Linked DNA regions of Homo sapiens. The protein of the gene in region 1 binds, or shares a complex with, the protein of each later gene. Each region holds a gene or a part of one and is shown in the gene's direction. Other genes may lie near its edges. The genes, in order: MED24, MED25 and MED12.

What was found.
Region 2: MED24 (region 1) and MED25 share a complex: the UniProt entries of both Homo sapiens proteins name them as parts of the mediator complex.
Region 3: MED24 (region 1) and MED12 share a complex: the UniProt entries of both Homo sapiens proteins name them as parts of the mediator complex.

Annotation. Positions count from the first base shown.
Region 1 is NC_000017.11:40,030,287-40,033,933, reverse strand, and holds part of MED24 (mediator of RNA polymerase II transcription subunit 24), read left to right. Parts: intron 1-477; coding exon 478-589; intron 590-727; coding exon 728-878; intron 879-1,171; coding exon 1,172-1,285; intron 1,286-1,843; coding exon 1,844-1,891; intron 1,892-2,313; coding exon 2,314-2,396; intron 2,397-2,688; coding exon 2,689-2,775; intron 2,776-3,647. UniProt on the Homo sapiens protein: Component of the Mediator complex, a coactivator involved in the regulated transcription of nearly all RNA polymerase II-dependent genes.
Region 2 is NC_000019.10:49,821,252-49,824,898, forward strand, and holds part of MED25 (mediator of RNA polymerase II transcription subunit 25), read left to right. Parts: intron 1-3,647. UniProt on the Homo sapiens protein: Component of the Mediator complex, a coactivator involved in the regulated transcription of nearly all RNA polymerase II-dependent genes.
Region 3 is NC_000023.11:71,139,092-71,142,738, forward strand, and holds the end of MED12 (mediator of RNA polymerase II transcription subunit 12), read left to right. Parts: intron 1-1,543; coding exon 1,544-1,766; coding exon of another isoform or gene 1,767-1,877; exon of another isoform or gene 1,878-2,138; coding exon 2,139-2,279; intron 2,280-2,791; coding exon 2,792-2,873; intron 2,874-3,083; coding exon 3,084-3,127; 3' UTR 3,128-3,359; downstream 3,360-3,647. UniProt on the Homo sapiens protein: Component of the Mediator complex, a coactivator involved in the regulated transcription of nearly all RNA polymerase II-dependent genes.

The DNA of each region.
Region 1 (3,647 bases):
AGGGGAGGGCAGCAAACGCAATGCCTAGATGAGGGAGTGGTTGAGAATGAGAAAGCCATTTAGGGACCCAGTTCCCCCAGAGGAGAGTGACAGCCTCTGCAAGACTGGACTTTGGGATCCGCTCACTCCTCGAGTGATTTGTGGCCGCCCTCCCTGTTCCAGCCACTGGATTCTGGCCTCCCTCTGCCTCTCTCTCCTGAGCCTGTGTGATGCCATACCTTCTGAAGTCAGCTGGCTGTGTCCCCTGGAAATCAGGCTTTTGGGAATGGTCTCTGGGGTTTCCAGCTCTAGGTGCCCACCCCCCTTCTGGAAACAGTGCATGCTGCCCTCAGGCCCCTCCCTCCCTGTTGTCCTCAGGGGAAGCCTTCCTGTGTGGTTTCGTGTGCCGGAGGGAGTGCCAAAATCGAGGAGTTCAGGGCCAGGTGCTCCTTCTCTCCTGTTTCCCATCATGTTTCTGTACTTCCTTCCCTCTGCCAGCTTCTTGGACTGCCATCGAGCATTCTCTCTTGAAACTTGGAGAGATCCTGGCCAATCTCAGCAACCCGCAGCTCCGGAGTCAGGCCGAGCAGTGTGGCACCCTCATTAGGAGGTACCGGCTCCCTGGGGGATGGTGGAGAAGGGAGAGGGAGGACACGCCCTGGGGTAGGAAGATGTGGCACCCGTGCCATCCTCTCCGCCTTCACCTTTGGCCCCCCAAACACCGTCCCCTGTGTTTGTGACCCCTCAGCATCCCCACGATGCTGTCTGTGCATGCGGAGCAGATGCACAAGACCGGCTTCCCCACTGTCCACGCCGTGATCCTGCTCGAGGGCACCATGAACCTGACAGGCGAGACGCAGTCCCTGGTGGAGCAGCTGACGATGGTGAAGCGCATGCAGGTGGGAGGGGCCGAGTGGCTCTCCCTTCTCCAAGGCAGGCCAGCCTGTTGGGGGCAGGAGGGAGGATTCTTCTGGTTCTCCCTGGGAGAAGTGGGGTTTCTCCTGCTCCATGATGGAAAGTGGGTGCCAGTCGTGCACACTTCTGTCATTGGACCTTACTCCCCTGGTTCTCAGCACATAGCTGAGCAGTGACTCTGCCATGCAGTCTCTGACCCAGCCAAATCCTCAGAGTCCACAGAAGGGTGACGGGGTATGGGCACCCTCTTAGGCCTCATCCTTGGCTCTTCCCACAGCATATCCCCACCCCACTTTTTGTCCTGGAGATCTGGAAAGCTTGCTTCGTGGGGCTCATTGAGTCTCCCGAGGGTACGGAGGAGCTCAAGTGGACAGCTTTCACTTTCCTCAAGGTACTGGGGACGTGGGAGGGGCAGAGCCAGTCTAGGAATGGTTCTTAGCAAGACCAGTGGCACCCTGGACCTTTGCCCTGTGTTCCTCCCTGCGGGCACTGGGCCCAGCCTGCCAGGTATTCCAGTGCAAGTTCCCATTGATCATTTTCTCTGAAAGTGCCAGGGCTATATTTAGCCCATTTGGCAGACTCCGTTGTTTCTTACCACAGAGGTGCAGTTTAGCTTGGTCATCAGACAGATAGGTGCAGGGCAGTAAAGGGAGCCAGGGAAAGGGGCCCCAGTCCTCCTTGAAGCTGGGGATCCACTTTTGCTTATGGCATCTTTTTCTGTTGAGCTAGCGGAGGTGCAGGGTGCTTGTGTCCTGTGCCTAGGCCTGGGGGCATCAGGGGCCTGGGCACCTATTGGCTTTCTCATTTAGCACTAAGTGTGCTCTCACTCCCAGGGTAGGAGTGTTCCTGTCTCTCTTCCTGGAGCAGGGGTTCGGGGGGATGCCTTCAGGGGTAGATGAAAGAGAAAAGAAATGGATCTTCCTGTTTTTCCCCCTGCCTCACCCCCTAGATTCCACAGGTTTTGGTGAAGTTGAAGAAGTACTCTCATGGAGACAAGGTGAGTTGGGGATTGAGATGGAGGCATGGGAGCAGAAATAAGGGCAAAGGGGAGGGTCCTTCAGGCCCCAGCTGGGCAGTGTTCTCATGCCTGGAAGAGAGCCGGATGTGAGTGTACACCTCAGCGTGCACGTGCTTCACAATGTGCATGCTTCAGCATGTGCGTGTGCTTCAGCATGTGCGTGTGCTTCAGTGTGTGCGTGCTTCAGTGTGTGTGTTTCAGCGTGTGTGTGCTTCAGCGTGTACGTGTGCTTCAGCCAGTGTGTGTGCTTCAGCGTCTGCGTGCACCCACAACATACACCCAGGCTCCAGGCAGAAAGCAGCCAGGCAACTCAGGCCGATGCCTCCAGCAGACAAGGTTGCCTGAGATGATCAGGGCCTGGTGGCCCTGGAAACCAGATGGACACTTCTGCCTCTTTCTAGGACTTCACTGAGGATGTCAACTGTGCTTTTGAGTTCCTGCTGAAGCTCACCCCCTTGTTGGACAAAGCTGACCAGCGCTGCAAGTATGAGCTCCCCTGGTCACCCCCGCCCTACTGGAAGGCGTTCTGGGCTCTTCCCCTGATCTCTGTGCCAGAGAAGCCTCAGGGGACTCTGTCTCCTTGTTCACTCCCCTTGGCAGGGGCAGGAAATAGGAGCCCACAGTTGCCAAGTCCCCAGAGCCCCTCTACCGTCCCTCAGGCACTCCAGATTTTCCTCATCCTGAAAGAGGGAGGATGCTGCTCAGGGACCTGCCACTCCCACCCCTCACCATCCTATCCAGGTGCCCAGTTCCCTCAGCATCTTTCTCCCTCACAGCTGTGACTGTACAAACTTCCTGCTCCAAGAATGTGGCAAGCAGGGGCTTCTGTCTGAGGCCAGCGTCAACAACCTTATGGCTAAGCGGTAAGTGTGAACGCACCTGTGCTACCCCAAGAGCCCCTTGACCTCTCTCTTGTTACGGTGGGGCTGCTGCGTGCCTTTCAACCTCCTGTCGAAAGTTTGGGCTGCAAGTGACTGGGACCGTGCCTGGGGGTACAGGGAACAGGAAGGAAAAGAAAGCACAGATGTCTTCAGACCAGAGTTTTACACTCTTAGTCACTGCTCTTTAACTCATACCCATCTTTGTGATAAAAGTAAAAATCCTAGGCTGGAGGCGGGTGGATTACTTGGAGGCCAGGAGTTCAAGACCAGCCTGCCCAACATGGCAAAACCCCATGTCTACTAAAAATACAAAAATCAGCTGGGCGTGGTGGTGTGTGCCTGTAATCTCAGCTACTCTGGAGGCTGAGGCACGAGAATTGCTTGAACCCAGGAGGCGGAGATTGTGGTGAGGCGAAATCATGCCACTGCACCCCAGCCTGGGCGATAGAGTGAGACCTTGTCTCAAAAAAAAAATAAATAAATAAATAAAAATCCTGAATCTTCCTTTAATCTTAAATGTGCTTTCAGAGCATTTAAGACTAATGATAGGCCGGCTGCGGTGGCTCACACCTGTAATCCCAGCATTTGGGAGGCCAAGGCGGGTGGATCACGAGGTCAGGAGTTTGAGACCAGCCTGGCCAACGTGGTGAAACCCCATCTCTACTAAAAATACAAAAATTAATCAGGCGCGATGGTATGCACCTGTAATTCCAGCTACTCAGGAGGCTGAGGCAGGAGAATCACTTGAACCCGGAAAGCAGAGGTTGTACTGAGCTGAGATCGCGCCACTGCATTCCAGCCTGGGTGACAGAGCGAGACTCTGTCTCAAAAAAAAAAAAGACTAATGATAAATT
Region 2 (3,647 bases), on another chromosome or scaffold:
GACCCAATAGAGAGAGCAAAGAGGAAGCCCCAGGCCTCTCTTGTTTTTGAGGAAGGGTCTCACTCTGTCACGCAGGCTGGAGTGCAGTGGCTCAGTCACGGCTCACTGCAGCCTCGACCTCCTGGGCTCAAGCTCAAGCGATCCTCCCATCTCAGCTTCCCGAGTAGCTGGAGTAGCAGGGACGGTAGCCAAATGCCAGCACACCTGGCTGATTTCTTAAAAATATTTTTGTAGGTCGGGCGTGGTGGCTCACGCCTGTAATCCCAGCACTTTGGGAGGCTGGGGCAGGTGGATCACCTGAGGTCAGGAGTTCGAGACCAGCCTGTCCAACATGGTGAAACCCTGCCTCTACTAAAAATACAAGCAATCATCCTGCCTTGACCTCCCTAAGTGCTGGAGTGCTGAAATTACAGGCCTTAGCTGGGCATGGTGGCGCATGCCTGTAATCCCAGCTCTTGGGAGGCTGAGGCAGGAGAATTGCTTGAACCTGGGAGGTGGAGGTTGCAGTGAGCCGAGATCACACCATTGCACTCCAGCCTGGGCAACAAGAGTGAAATTCTGTCTCAAAAAAAAAAAAAAAAAAAAATTTTGTAGTGGCGGGGCACGGTGGCTCATCCCTGTAATCCCAGCACTTTGGGAGGCCAAGGCGGGCGAATCACCTGAGGTCAGGAGTTCGAGACCAGCCTGGCCAACATGGTGAAACCCCGTCTCTACAAAAAATACAAAAATTGGGCAGGCGTGGTGGCTCACGCCTGTAATCCCAGCACTTTGGGAGGCTGAGGCGGGTGGATGATGAGGTCAGGAGATGGAGACCATCCTGGCTAACACGGTGAAACCCCGTCTCTACTAAAAATACAAAAATTTAACCGGGCGCGGTGGCAGGCACCTGCAGTCCCAGCTACTCGGGAGGCTGAGGCAGGAGAATGGCGTGAACCCAGGAGGCGGAGTTTGCAGTGAGCCAAGATTGCACCACTGCACTCCAGCCTGGGCAACAGAGCAAGACTCTGTCTCAAAAAAAAAAAAAAAAAAAAAACCATACAAAAATTAATCAGGTGTGGTGGCATGTGCCTTGTAATCCTAGCTACTCAGGAGGCTGAGGCAGGAGAATCACTTCAAGCCAGGAGGTGGAGAGATCGCACCACTGCGCTCCAGCTTGGGTGACTGACTGACTGAGACCCTGTCTCAAAAAAAAATTGTTTTTTTTGTGGAGACAAGGTCCTGCAATGTTGCCCAGGCTGGTTTTGAACTCCTGGTCTCAAGTGATCCTCCACTTCAGTGTCCCTAAGTGCTGGGATTAGAGGCATGAGATGCTGCACCCAGAGGCCCCACTAGGCTCTTTGTAATCAAGTCTTGGAAGTTACACGTCATGTCATTATTTCTGTTACATTCTTTTTTTTTTTTTTTTTTTTTTTTTGAGACAGAGTCTCGCTCTGTTGTCCAGGCTGAAGTGCAGTGGTGCGATCTCAGCTCACTGCAAGCTCCGCCTCCCGAGTTCACGCCATTCTCCTGCCTCAGCCTCCTGAGTAGCTGGGACTACAGGTGCCCGCCACCACACCCAGCTAATTTTTTGTATTTTTAGTAGAGACAGGGTTTCACTGTGTTAGCCGGGATGGTCTCGGTCTCCTGACCTTGTGATCCACCCGCCTCGGCCTCCCAAAGTGCTGGGATTACAGGCGTGAGCCACCGCGCCTGGCCTACATTCTGTTTTTTAACCTGAGACAGGGTCTTGCTCTGTTGCCCAGATTGGAGTGCAGTGGTGGGATCATAGCTTGCTGCAGCCTCGACCTCTCGGGCTCAAGTGATCCTCCCACCTCAGCCTCCTGAGTACCTAGGACTGCAGGTGGGCACCACCATGCATGGCTGATTTCTTTATTTTAATTCTTGTAGAGATGAGGTCTTGCTGTGTTGCTCAGACTGGTCTTGAACTCCTGGCCTCAAGCGATCCTCCTGCCTTGACCTCCCTAAGTGCTGGAGTGCTGAGATCACAGGCCTGAGCTGCGGTGCCAAGTCCACTTCTGCCATACTGCATTTGGTGTGCAGTATAAGCCTATCCCGTTCAGTGTAGGAGGAGACTACCCAGTGTGTAAATAGCAAGAGGCTGGATTGCTGGGTGCTGTATTGGGGGCTGGGTACCGCAACCTCACAGCGATGTTTGGAGAATTAAGTTAGTTGATGATGTTTAATACAGTGCCTGGCATGTATTAAGTGCCGTGTAAGTGTTTCCTAGGATTTTGTGCCTCACTCTCCTGGTTTGCAAATGGATAATGGTCGCGTGTATCTCCGTGTTGTTAGAAGATCACAGGAGCTAAGTTGCTTGCTGTGTGTCGCTTAGGGCCTGGTCTGCAGTCAAGGTTCATTAAACAACACCTGTTCGTAGCGGCCGTTACCTCTGTATGCTTCTGCAGCAGGTGTTTGTTGAGTATCTGCTTTGTTCCAGTATGTGCGTGCAAGTGCTGGGTGCAGGACATATAGTGAAAAGGTGACACAGAAGCTTCCCCTTCGCGGTAGCTGGAATTCGTAGGTAACACAGAGCAGGGTTTCTCATCCTTGGCCCTAGTGACACTGTGGACACAGTCATTCCTTGTAGTGGGGGCCGTCCTGGGTATTGTAGGATGTTTAACATCATCCTTGGCCTCTACTCACTAGATGCCGGTAGCCCCCTCCCAAAGGTGTGACAACCAAAAATGTCTCCAGGCATTATAAAATATCCTCTGGGAAGGGGGCGCAAAATGTATTCCATTTGAGACCACTGGGAGAGACCGGTAAGACAGTCTTGAGTGATGTTAAATGGAGACTTCTTGAGGCCCAGGTCCAAGTCTGATGCTCCTCAAGTGCCTGGCAGCCAGCACAGGGCCTGGTACACAGGAGGCCTCGGGTAAATTCTGTAGAATGAATGTCCAGAATGCATTTAATACTAACCACCCTGGAAGACACTGCATAGCCTTCCAGACCCAGCTCAGGTGTCTTATACCCTGGGAAACCTTCCCGATTCTTGCAGCCAGATGCTTCCTCCTCTGCCTCCATGACCTGTCACAGCCCCACACCTCTGGACTGTGAATGTCCAGGTCCCTGGGTGCTTCTGCCATTTGCTTCCAGCTGGGGCTTGGCACCCACGGGGCTTCAGGAGACTGGCTGAATAAATGAATTAGTATGTAATACAAAAACAACAAATAAATAGAAAAAATTAACCAGGCATGGTGGTGCACACCTGTAGTCCCAGCTACTCAGGAGGCTGAGGTAGGAGGATCAACTGAGACTGGGAGGCAGAGGTTGCAGTGAGCCGAGATTGTGCCACCGCACTCCAGCCTGGGTGAAAGAGCGAGACCCTGTCTCGGGAAAAAAAAAAAAAAAAAAGAGGTGGAAGGAAAATAGACCCAGTGTGTTTCCCATAACATTATGACAACTCAGTTGTTCATTCATATGTTCACTCATTAATTCAACAAATGTTTGTGGAACAAATCGTCCTGGGCACCAAGGAGTTAGTGGGCATGAGATAGGCAAGGTCCTGGCCCTCATGGAACTAGTTTGCCTGGGTGACAGGCCGTGTGTAGGGAGCCCTTGGTCATGGCCGGATGCTGTTAACATTCACTCATTTTGACCTCCTGGGGCTCCAGGCACCTGTTAGCCGATGAAAGCGGGCAGCAGAG
Region 3 (3,647 bases), on another chromosome or scaffold:
ACTATAGCTGGGGAGATGAGACTTATAGAAGAATATTGAGAGAACACTCTGAGCAAAGATATAATCAGGTATGCAGTTGTATGCTATGAGGTAAAATGTGGATTGAGAAAAAGTACGTGGTAATATCTGTGGGCCTGACTCATCAGAGAATGTTTCATGAAGGAGGTCAGACTTGAGTTGGCCTCTGAAGAATAGCTGTGATTGGGATTTGTGGAGAAGAGGAAAAGAAAGGGCATTCCAGGTAGAGGATGTAACGTGAACAAAGACATGGGGACCAGAATGAGGATGGTGCCTGGGGAGAAGGGCCTGGATGGAGTGTAAAATCTGTGCTGGGGAAGTCACTGGGGCTAGGCTAGGAGGGGGCAGGCTGAGAGATGGCCTTGAATGCTCAGCCGAAGAATTGAGACGCAGTCCCAGAAAGGGCTCTTTTGATCAGAAGAGTGATAGGAGGAGTTGGGTATGTTGCAAGGTTCCTTGGAATGAATGGATAGGATGTGTACTGGAAGGTGCAAGAAGAAGACTTCAGGCCAGGCACGGTGGCTCATGCCTGTAATCCCAGTACTTTGGGAGGCCCAGGCAGGCAGATCACCTAAGATCAGGAGTTCGAGACCAGCCTGGTCAACATGGTGAAATCCCGTCTCTACTAAAAATACAAAAATTATCTGGGTGTGGTGGCATGTGCCTGTAATCCCAGCTACTTGGGGGGCTGAGGCAAGAGAATCACTTGAACCTGAGAGGTGGAGGTTGCAGTGAGCCGAGATCGCATCATTGCACTCCAGCCTGGGCAACAGAGTGAGACTCTGTCTCAAAAAAAAAAGAAGACTTGAGACGGGGAGCCTGGCCAGTAGACTCTTGAAGTGATATACACATGTGGTAGAACAACTTGAAATGTTATTTGGGAACAACAACAGCAACAGCAAAAAACCTCAATGAGTGTTTATAGAATGCCTATCTTGTGCTAAGACTATTTTTTTCTTTTCTTTTCTTTCTTTTTTTTTTTTTTTTTGAGATGGAGTCTCGCTCTGTCATCCAGGCTGGAGTGCAGTGGTGCAATCTTGGCTCACTGCAACTTCCACCTCCCAGGTTCAAGCAATTCTCCTGCCTCAGCCTCCTGAGTAGCTGGGATTACAGGCATCCACTACCACGCTCAGCTATTTTTTTTTGTATTTTTGCTAGAGATGGGGTTTCACCATGTTGCCAGGCTGGTCTAGAACTCCTGACCTCAAGTGATCCACCCACCTTAGCCTCCCAAAGTGCTGGGATTACAGGTGTGAGCCACCGCACCCAGCCCTATTTTTCATTTTTGTAACAGAAAAATAGCTAATGCAGAATTGAAAAATTCCTAACCATTAAGGTTATGAGACACTAAAATAGAGTATCATCTTATGCAACTTATTCCCCAGACTGGAAGTCTGGTTAGTGACACGAGGAATGAATGAAATAACCTGCTAACGTTTCTTTCAGGTCAGGGACCCAAGGTTTATACTGACCCCCTCTCCTCACCTCCCTCATGCCTTGACCTCTGACCCTCTTATCTTTGGAGGTTTTCACACCAGACACTGCAGCAGACACCCATGATAAGTACCATGACTCCAATGAGTGCCCAGGGCGTCCAGGCAGGCGTCCGTTCAACAGCCATCCTACCTGAGCAGCAGCAGCAGCAGCAACAGCAGCAACAGCAACAGCAGCAGCAGCAGCAACAGCAACAGCAGCAGCAGCAGCAGCAGTACCACATCCGGCAGCAGCAGCAGCAGCAGATCCTGCGGGTAAGGCACTGGGATTTCATCTGGGACCTGGGAGCCCAGGGAGGAAGAGAGGCACAAGTTCTTCCCACACAGTTACCGAGACTAAACAAGGCAGTGTACCAAAACACCTAGCAGAGCGGCTGGCCTCTAGTGGTGCTGGAGAAGTTTTCTACCCTCCCCCTTTTTGTTTTCTGGGGATCATAGTGGGAGAGAGTTGGACATTGTCTGCTGGGTACCCTAGATTTGGTTTCTTTCTGTGCAGCTGTCTAAAAAGGGAAGGCAGTAGACCCCGAGCTCCCACCCTGCTTCCTCATCCCCTGCCCTCAGCCCTTTAGTTCTGAGGCTTAGCTTCCTCCCTCTGCTCCTTCTGAAGTATCTTTTGTGTTCTTATAGCAGCAGCAGCAACAGCAACAGCAGCAGCAGCAGCAGCAGCAACAGCAACAGCAGCAGCAGCAACAGCAACAACAGCAACACCAGCAGCAACAGCAGCAACAGGCGGCTCCTCCCCAACCCCAGCCCCAGTCCCAGCCCCAGGTAGCTGCTGGACTACAGCCCCAGGCTCAGGGACAGCTGCCCAGGTTGGGCACGCAGCCAGTGAACTGGGTTGGGGACAGTATGGAATAGGGTAGAGGTGGGAGGCAGGGCATGGCACCCTAAAAATGGATTGGGAGGCCAGGCGCAGTGGCTCACGCCTGTAATCCCAGCACTTTGGGAGGCCAAGGCAGGTGGATCACTTGAGGTCAGGAGTTCAAGACCAGCCTGGCCAAGATGGTGAAACCCCGTCTCTACTAAAAATACAAAAAATAATAATAATAAATAAGCCGGGCATGGTGGCAGGTGCCTGTTATCTCAGCTACTCAAGAGGCTGAGGCAGAGAATTGCTTGAACTTGGGAGGCAGAGGTTGCAGTGAGCCAAGATCATGCCACTGCACTCCAGCCTGGGGGACAGAGCGAGACTCCATCTCAAAAAAAAAAACGGATTGGGAAAGGAGGTTGAAGAAGGAGAAAAGTTCGACTTCAGTCTTCCACTTCCTATTTCCACCCAGTTCCAGCGCCAGGGGCTTCAGCAGACCCAGCAGCAGCAACAGACAGCAGCTTTGGTCCGGCAACTTCAACAACAGCTCTCTAGTAAGCCTGCCTGCCTTCCCAAGGAGAACCCCATGGAATAAATTTAGGGGGCGGGGTGGGCCAAAGTAGCTGAAACGATAGCTTCAGGCCCAGGTTATGAGAGGAGGCATTCCATTCCATCCCCTTCCCTCGATACCTGAACAGCTTTCCTCGTGCATACCCACACCCCTGCCTGGTCTTCCATCCCTGATAATCTCTGGTTTTTCACAGATACCCAGCCACAGCCCAGTACCAACATATTTGGACGCTACTGAGCCACCTGGAGGAACTGCTTGTGCACTGGATGTGGCCCCACCCTTTCCTCTTAATTCCCAATCCCATTCCTGGGCTAGCACCAGTAGTGGTTGGGGCCCTCCCCTCAGGCTCCATTTTTAATAAGTTTTTAGTATTTTTGTTAATGTGAGGCATTGAGCTGTTGGGTTTTGTATATTATTTATATAGAGACCCCAGAGCTGTTGCACCCAATACACAGAGCTTCTTTGCAAAGGGAGTGTGCGAGTTCTGCATGTCTGGGAAGGGTGGTCTCTTGGGAGAATGCAGGGGGTTGGACCAACAAGTCAGAGTCTTCATTCTATTCTGATCATCTCCCCTGTTTACCTTACACTCTAAAATTTCTTTTTTTCTTTTTTTTTGAGACGGAGTCTTGCTCTGTCGCCCAGGCTGGAGTGCAGTGGCGCGATCTCGGCTCACTGCAACCTCTGCCTCCCGGGTTCCAGCGATTCTCCTCCCTCAGCCTCCCGAGCAGCTGGGATTACAGTTATGTGCCATCACGCC